2 linked regions of the Homo sapiens genome follow. The protein of the gene in region 2 purifies or fractionates together with the protein of the main gene of each other region. This does not show direct contact. Each region holds a gene or a part of one and is shown on either strand. Other genes may lie near its edges.

Region 1 (4,180 bases), on a different chromosome or scaffold from region 2:
GACAAATCTCTACAGATGGATAAGGATTACAGCATGATGGTTATGCAACTCAAGATCCCCTAGCCCATCTTTTCTTGTTTTCTTTTCAACTGGGGGTGCAGTAAGGCGGTGTTAAAAATGCAGGCAAGCTATTCCTTTGAATAAAAGCGGTATCTGGGATTTAGGTTTATAGGACTTCAGAGTTAGAAGGGTGCCTGGGAAATCATCTAGCTTAGAAACTCTATTTAACAGTTTGGGAAACTGCAGCCTCAAGAGAGGAAGTGTCTTTCCCAATGTCAGGCACTGGGAGTTAGAACACACTTTTTTTTTTTTTTTTCACCCTTGGCCAATGCTTTTCCTACATAGAGGGCACAACAGTCTTGGGAAATACACAAGAAGTTCCCCAAATCAAAATGAAGATAAACAATATTATGATTTTAAAATTTTTCCTGTCAGTACTTCTAGTAAAGGAAAGTTCTATACAAACCCCAAGATGATGGAGCTGCCAGGAAAAAAAAAAAAAAAAAAAGCTGAGAATGATTTCACTAGGTCTTTGGATGCCTTTAATCCATCAGTTCTAAAACCCTTTGCATTATGAGGGAATGCCACAATTCGCAAAGTGCTTCCCTGTGCATTATCCCATTTCTTCTACACACTATCTACCCCCTAGAGGTGGCTGCTGTTACTGTTCTTTAACTGTAGAGGGAATGGGGCCCAGAAAGAAGTATTAGTTCAAGGTCAAATGGTACCTTCAGGGCACAGCCAGAGCTAAAACCCAGGTCTTCAAACACCCTTGCAAGGAGATTATCATGGCCCAAGGCTTCCCCGGAATCCTGAGAGATCACAAGGGCAGGGCCTAGAATTTGCTGCAGGCCTTGAATTTGGGGGTGGGGTACGTTCAGACTGATGTTCTTAGAGGGTTTCAAGGGTCCCCTCCAGCCAGCAGGCAGAGACCCTGAAAAAAAGGTTACCGTGGCAACTCGCATTCCTCGGAGAGTGAGTCAGGCAGAGAAGAGCCTTCTGGTGGGTGGGACTTGGAGAAAGTTTCAAAAGTTGATTCCTTCTCCAGGCAACCCCCTTCTTCTCCTCCCTCCCCCTCTTTGCTCTAGGCTATGTCGATGTGGCAGCTGATAGCTGAGAGTTAACTCTCTCTTTCCTCAACCACTCCCTTTTCAGAAGGCTTCATCCTCCAGCAAATACACACATTTGTTACCAGTCCTCACTCCATCCCCACGTCATGCCCTCTAATCCATTTGAGAATATCTTAAAGCTGAAAGCTGTGACCACCCATATTCATCCTCTCTCTCTCTCTCTCTCCCTCTCTCTCTCACACACACACACACACACACACACACACACACACAGTGCATACAATTTTTAGGGGCTTAGAGATGGCTTGAGGCCCATTCAAAGACCACTCCATAGACCCTGGTTAAGAAATCTTCCTTTGAATATTTTAGAGGACACAAAGCACCCCAAAGAGCCTTCAGTTTCAGCCTTCTTTCATTACAGATGGGGCACTAAATCCAGGGGAGACACTTACCTAAGATCACACATAAAATGCATGCCCGAAGCCTGTGTCCTACTTCTGCTTTGCTTCTCACTAAACCACCAGCACTTGGGGCGTATAGAAATTTAACTCTAAAGCATTACTAGAGAAAACATTTTCTCTAATGAAAAAAATGCTGTCCTTTCCTGAGGAAAATGCATGCCTCTCTGTTCCCTTTTGGGCAGACTGGGAATCCTGGAAGACATAACTCATCCCAGTGCCCCCCTTCCCTTGGAGTCCTTGGAGTCCCTTTCCCTAAGGAAGTCCACTTGACAGCCAGTTCACGGAGCCAGTGGCGGCGAAGAAAGGTAGTGGATTTGTCTGAAGAAGAACTGACACCCTGACAGGCTGGACACTAGTCTTGGGTGGATTACGGAAGGGGACCCTGGAATTCTCTCCCTCTTCCCTTCCCCCTTTCCCCCTTCTGAGAATATCTCCCCCAGCACACTCCACCTCCCATTACACCCATGTCTTGGTTGACGATATCTGATGTCTGGGTTTTCAGATCTAGATAAACTAAGGGCTACTGCCTGTGTTTACCATCCCAAGGAACTCAGGACAGGAACAACACCTAACCCAAGACTGAGGTTGTGATGGTGCCATTTCAGGCAGAATGGTGCTGAAATTTGTGTATTGGGGGGACGGAAGGTGGTGTTTGGGAGTGAGGAGAATTAGAGGAAAACAGAAGGCTTCCCAGAGGTGTGGATTAATGGTGAAGCCTCCCCCTTTGCCTTTCAGAGATCAACTGATTGTTCGTGCAAAGTCCCTTTTGGAAAACAGAACCCCTGACCGAGATCTGGAGGACAGACTCCGGTTGCTGGCCAGGTCCCTGTGGCAGCTGTGATGGGATCAGATTCCCAGGAAAGGAGGAGGCTGCCACATTTGCAAAGGGAGCAAAGAGGACAGGCAGGCAGCCTCTGAAACCAGAGACAGACACAGAGAAAAACAGAGAGTGAGAAAATGCTCCCCCGAAGACATAGTGAGATTATTTTCTGTAAACCTGTAAGGGAAGACAAAGTTACACAGTGAGTCCACCTTCTGAAAAGCAACAGGCAGACAGGACCGAGGGCCATGCTCTTAAGGGGAGCCGTGATGGAGCCGGGAGGAGAGGCGCATCCTCAGCAGAGCTTCCCTCCCTTGCACACGAGCTGACGGCGTGAACGGGGGTGTCGGGGTTGGTGCAACTATAGAAGGGAAAGGCTGGGCGGGGGTCACACATACCTCAGTGGCAGGCAGGCAGGCGGCAGGCAGAGCGCGCTCTCCGGGCAGTCTGAAGGACCGCGGGAATGTGGAGGGGTTTAGAGACAGGCAACAGGAAACCACTCAGAGCTCTGGGCTGGGTCTATCTCCCCTCCACCCCGTGGTCCCTCCTCCTCCTGTCTCCTCCTTCCCCCGGCCTCCTCCTTCTCCCATAGCCAAAGCTGTCTCTGTCTTTCATTTCTTTCCTCCTCTTTTTGCGGTGGGCTGTCCTGACCAAACGTCCCAACCCTGCCTGCCTCATCTGTTCCGGGGCTGCTGCCTAAACCGACTCACAGAGTGCCAGGGCTGGACAGGCCTGGAGGGATGACCCAGAACAGCCTCTTTCTTGTTCAGAGGGCAAGTGAGGCCTGGAGACTGCAAGGAATTACCCAATGGCCCCCAGGGGCAGAACCAGGCCCAAGTGTCTTGATCTTCTAACCAGTGAGCTTTACAGGAGTCCTCCCTAATATTAGGCAATGCTGAGAAGGGCCAAGCAATTCAAGGGGGTTGTATTTGCCACAAAGGCAAGGCCAGGACTTACCACTGTACAGACAAGACAAGCTGCTACTAGTGGTATCATCCTTGATGATTTGGAACTGGTCTTAAAAAAAAAAATCCCACTCAAACTCCACTTGTACCACTAATAGACACATAAGGGATTAGACATCTAGCTGGTGGACCTGTGCCACCAGTATTGAACAGATAAGGTAATTGATGATATTGATGATAATCATAGGAGTAACAATAGCCAAAGTTTACTGAGGATTTAATAATCTTCACAGCAACCCCTTATCTTAGGCATTGTAATTATGACCATTTTAATAATAAGGAAACATAGATGCTAAGTAACTTGCCTATGATCACCTGGCAAAAAGTGGTATGAGAGGGCTGATTCTACGTTTCAACTTGGGTCACTCCTGTTATATATGAACTGCTCAGTGCAACAGGTCTTGGTTGAATGTTTATTTTGTGCCTAACACTCTGGGAGGTATGAGAATTAATAAATACCTGGTCCTTGTCCTCAAAAAGTTTTGTGGTTTCCGGTTTTTTTGTTTGTTTGTTTTGTTTTGTTTTGAGACAGAGTCTCACTCACTCTGTCGCCCAGGCTGGAGTGCAGTGGTATGATTTCGGCTCACTGCAACCTCTGCCTCCCGGGTTCAAGCAATTATCGCGCCTCAGCCTCCAGAGTAGCTGGGATTACAGGCGCACATGCCACAACACCCAGCTAATTTATTGTATTTTTAGTAGAAATGGGGTTTCAACATGTTGCCCAGGCTGGTCTCGAACTCCTGAGCTTGGGCAATCCGAATGCCTTGGCTTCCCAAAGTGCTAGGATTACAGGCGTGAGCCACCGCACCCAGCTTAGCTTTGTGGTTTCTTAAATTCTTTTTTAATTTTTTTAGACGAGTTAAG
Region 2 (3,500 bases):
ATGACCAAAGCCGCCTTCTTGACCTCATCCTGGGACCGACCGTCCGTGACCACAACCAACACCTTAGGGACATTCTTCCTCATGCCGCTCTCCCAAGTCAAGACTTTCTCCTTGATAAACGTGAGGGCCTTGCCTACAGAATGTGGCATGGAAAATTTTAGTGTCACTTCAGTGAAAACTACCCAAATGCCATTAGTCACACCCAACTGATAAGAATCTGGATATCAGCATGAGATAATACACTCAGTTCTGCCACTACAAATGCTTGAAGAGTAAAGGTCTACATATACACATACCTGTTCTTGTGTTTCCTCCTCTGTACCTAATATTCTGGAGGGCCCCAAGGGCTAGGGCCTTGTCATTGTACGTGTTCAGCTTGAACTCAGACTTGACCTCATCGCTGTATTGCACAAATGAAACCTGAAGGAAAATGTGATTTGGCAGTGAGCATAAGTCATCTCATTTTATGTTTCAATCTTCAAATGATTCTCTAGCTGCGGAATAAAGCGGTGGGGGTGTAAAAAGTATCTCAGACCTGATAGAATATTGTAAGCTCTTTATAGCTAATATTACAACATCTACTGCACTTGTCTCATTAAATTCGTTAATTTTCAATCTTCAATGAAATTGTCATAATTGGCATTAATAATGAAAATATACTATATTCACGTTGTGCCTTTCTCTAGGACATAGAAAGGGATGAATAAAGGTGGGGAGTGGTGAGATCCCAGGATTAGACATGAGAACATACCATCTCGAATCCAAATGTTGGTTAAACAGTTGACTCAGCCAACTGCTACTTCCCACTGACTATATCCGTTCTTTATGGCAATACAGAAATGTCACATGTGTGATTATAATCATCCCTCATCACAACCTCATTGAAAATGGGATTTAGTGGAAAAAGTACAGACTTTGTACTCAGGAATCGCTGGGTTCAAATCCTAGCTCTGGCATTTAATAGCTATGTGACAATGGATTTTTTTTATCAGTAAAATGAGGATAACTATACTTACCTTCTAGGATTGTTTTAAAGACTAATAATCCTGTATACAAAGTAACTGGTACATAGATGTTAATAAAATATGATCAGTATTTTTTTTAGAAATACAAATTCCTAAAAGGATGAAAAAAGCTTGCTAGTTGAATTAATGTGGTTAAATTAAGAATATAACCACATTAAATTAAGAATATAACTAGGGTGAATTTTTACTCTTCTTGGGTTGGATCAATGTCCAGAGGATTATTTGAGGATTTGAAATTTAGTATACTACTATTCCATAAAAGAGGACAAGTTTTGTTGATGAAATTGTTTGTGGTTTATTTCAAAATAGCTTATTTTCATAATGCCACAATGATGATCAAACTGCCAAAATAAAGAAGAAAATTCACCAAAGAAATGGGAAAGAAAAGGAGAGAATTGTTTTTTAAAAAGATAGTCTTCTGCTTTAAGGAGTCAATGATTTAGATAGAAGATTAGACAGAACAGAGTCACACAATTAATGACAATATGAAGTGATATTTGTTGTAATGCAGCAATATAGACAAAATAATTCAAAAGCATGGAATGGGTAAAGCCATCATGGAACCTCACCAGAGGGGGTGAAATTTTAATTGGGTCTTTTAACTGTGTTAGGGTTACATGATGATTTATTCTTTGAGGCCCCTCCCTCATGGAAATATAAACTTCTCTAAGTACTTCAGTATAACAAATATATTTGGAGTGATTTCAGAGCAAGATAATTGGTAGTTATCCTTTTAAAAAAACAAATGAAATACGCTTTAGCTCAACAATGGACCTTCTTCTGGTCAAGGTAATTATCTGCAAAGTAATGATAGAGGCAGCAAGTTCCACACACCCACTCCAGTCACTGTTTATCACTGATTCTTCTAACTTCACAGGGGATGACAATCACAAAGAATTTAATATCCAGAACTTTGGATGAACTTCTATAGAAATGTGTCATGATTGGAAGTTTTAAGCAGGAAGTTAGAGTCCCTTAGAATCCCCTAAGTTCTCCAACAGGAATATTATCTAGCCAAAGATAAAAACTAAGGGAACATTTATTTTTCTATTGATTTATCATTTATACCCAATTCCCTCCCAAAAATACATGAATAAAAGAAATAGCAAATAGGAGAAGGTCAAAACAGAGTTTATATTGAAAAGACTTTTTACTTAAAAAGAGAAGTTCAAAGGAAAGGCAAGACATCACAAATGAGTAGCCACTGGCGGAATGACACTAACCTGAATCCCAGCAGGACTGATTTCATCAAAGCCTCCCACAGTATTGAAGATGAATTTTACAACTTTGTTAAAATTATCGTCCCCAATGCTCCAGGAGGCATCAGTCAAGAACACAATATCTGCCTTGGCCCCTTTGCATACTGCAAAAAAAGAAAGCAGAGGAAGCCCCAAATCTCATGAATTCTTTCATTTAAATGAAATCACATAATTGAAAATGCAATATAACACCTTGCTACGCAAAGTGTGGTTCTGCAGCAACAGCACTGCCTGGGAGCTTGTTAGAAATGCAGAATCTTGGGTCCTACCCCAGACTTCCTGAATCAGTACCAGCAGTAATAAGATGACTCACATGCACAATAAATTTAAGAAGCATTGCGGGGACCCTCAATACCTGCTCTGGAATTACTCCATTTGTTTAGATCCATTATGCAAAGATACAATCTTACTTAATGGAACTCTTCAAGTAGTTTTGAACAATAAATGAGAGGAGAAATCAAATAAAAAGTTTGGAGATTTGAAATGTAATTATTAAAGATTGACTTTATGCAAATAAGTCCTTTTTTTTTTTTTTTTTTAGACAGGGTCTTGCTCTGTCTTCAGGCTGGAGTGCAGTGGTGTGATGATCTTGGCTCACTGCAAACTCCACCTCCCAGGTTCAAGTGATTCTCCTGCCTCAGCCTCCTGAGTAGCTGGGACTACAGGCATGTGCCACCACGCCCAGCTAATTTCTCTATTTTTAGCAGAGACGGGTTTAACCATGTTGGCCATGATGGTCTCGATCCACCTGTCCCGGCCTCCCAAAGTGCTGGGATTACAGGCGTGAGCCACCGCACCTGGCCAAGTCCTTTGTAAAATTTAAATTAAGCCACTAGAATCATATGCAGGAAAGGAGAAGATTTTTATTGGAATATCTAGACTTAGAGGCTAAGAAAAAATTCCAAAAACAATTAACAAAATTTTAGTTTATAAAAACTTAGCATATAGAAGTATAACACCAAGAGTGAACCCTAACGCAAACTGTGGACTTTGGGTGGTGATGATGTGTCAATGTAGGTTCATCGGTTGTAACAAACGTACCACTCAGATGTGGGATGTTAATAGTGGAGGAGGCTGGGCATGTGTGGGGAAGGGCAGTCTGTCTGGGAGATGAAAAATCTCTGCATCATCCCTGCAATGTTGCTATGAACCTAAAACTACTCTAGAAAATAAAGCCTATTTAAAAAGAAAAAACTTGTTTTTAAACCAAGATTAT

The links. Proteins that work in one complex are often made in the same cells at the same time.
Region 1: the proteins of COL12A1 (region 2) and SPARC purify together in Homo sapiens (co-immunoprecipitation; one large-scale study listed by IntAct). This does not show direct contact.

What each region holds. Positions count from the first base shown.
Region 1 is NC_000005.10:151,684,116-151,688,295, forward strand, and holds the start of SPARC (SPARC isoform 1 precursor), read right to left. Parts: upstream 2,801-4,180; 5' UTR 2,750-2,800; exon of another isoform or gene 2,267-2,749; intron 1,837-2,266; exon of another isoform or gene 1,714-1,836; intron 1-1,713.
Region 2 is NC_000006.12:75,119,054-75,122,553, forward strand, and holds part of COL12A1 (collagen alpha-1(XII) chain long), read right to left. Parts: intron 2,389-3,500; coding exon 2,249-2,388; intron 421-2,248; coding exon 297-420; intron 134-296; coding exon 1-133. UniProt on the Homo sapiens protein: Type XII collagen interacts with type I collagen-containing fibrils, the COL1 domain could be associated with the surface of the fibrils, and the COL2 and NC3 domains may be localized in the perifibrillar matrix.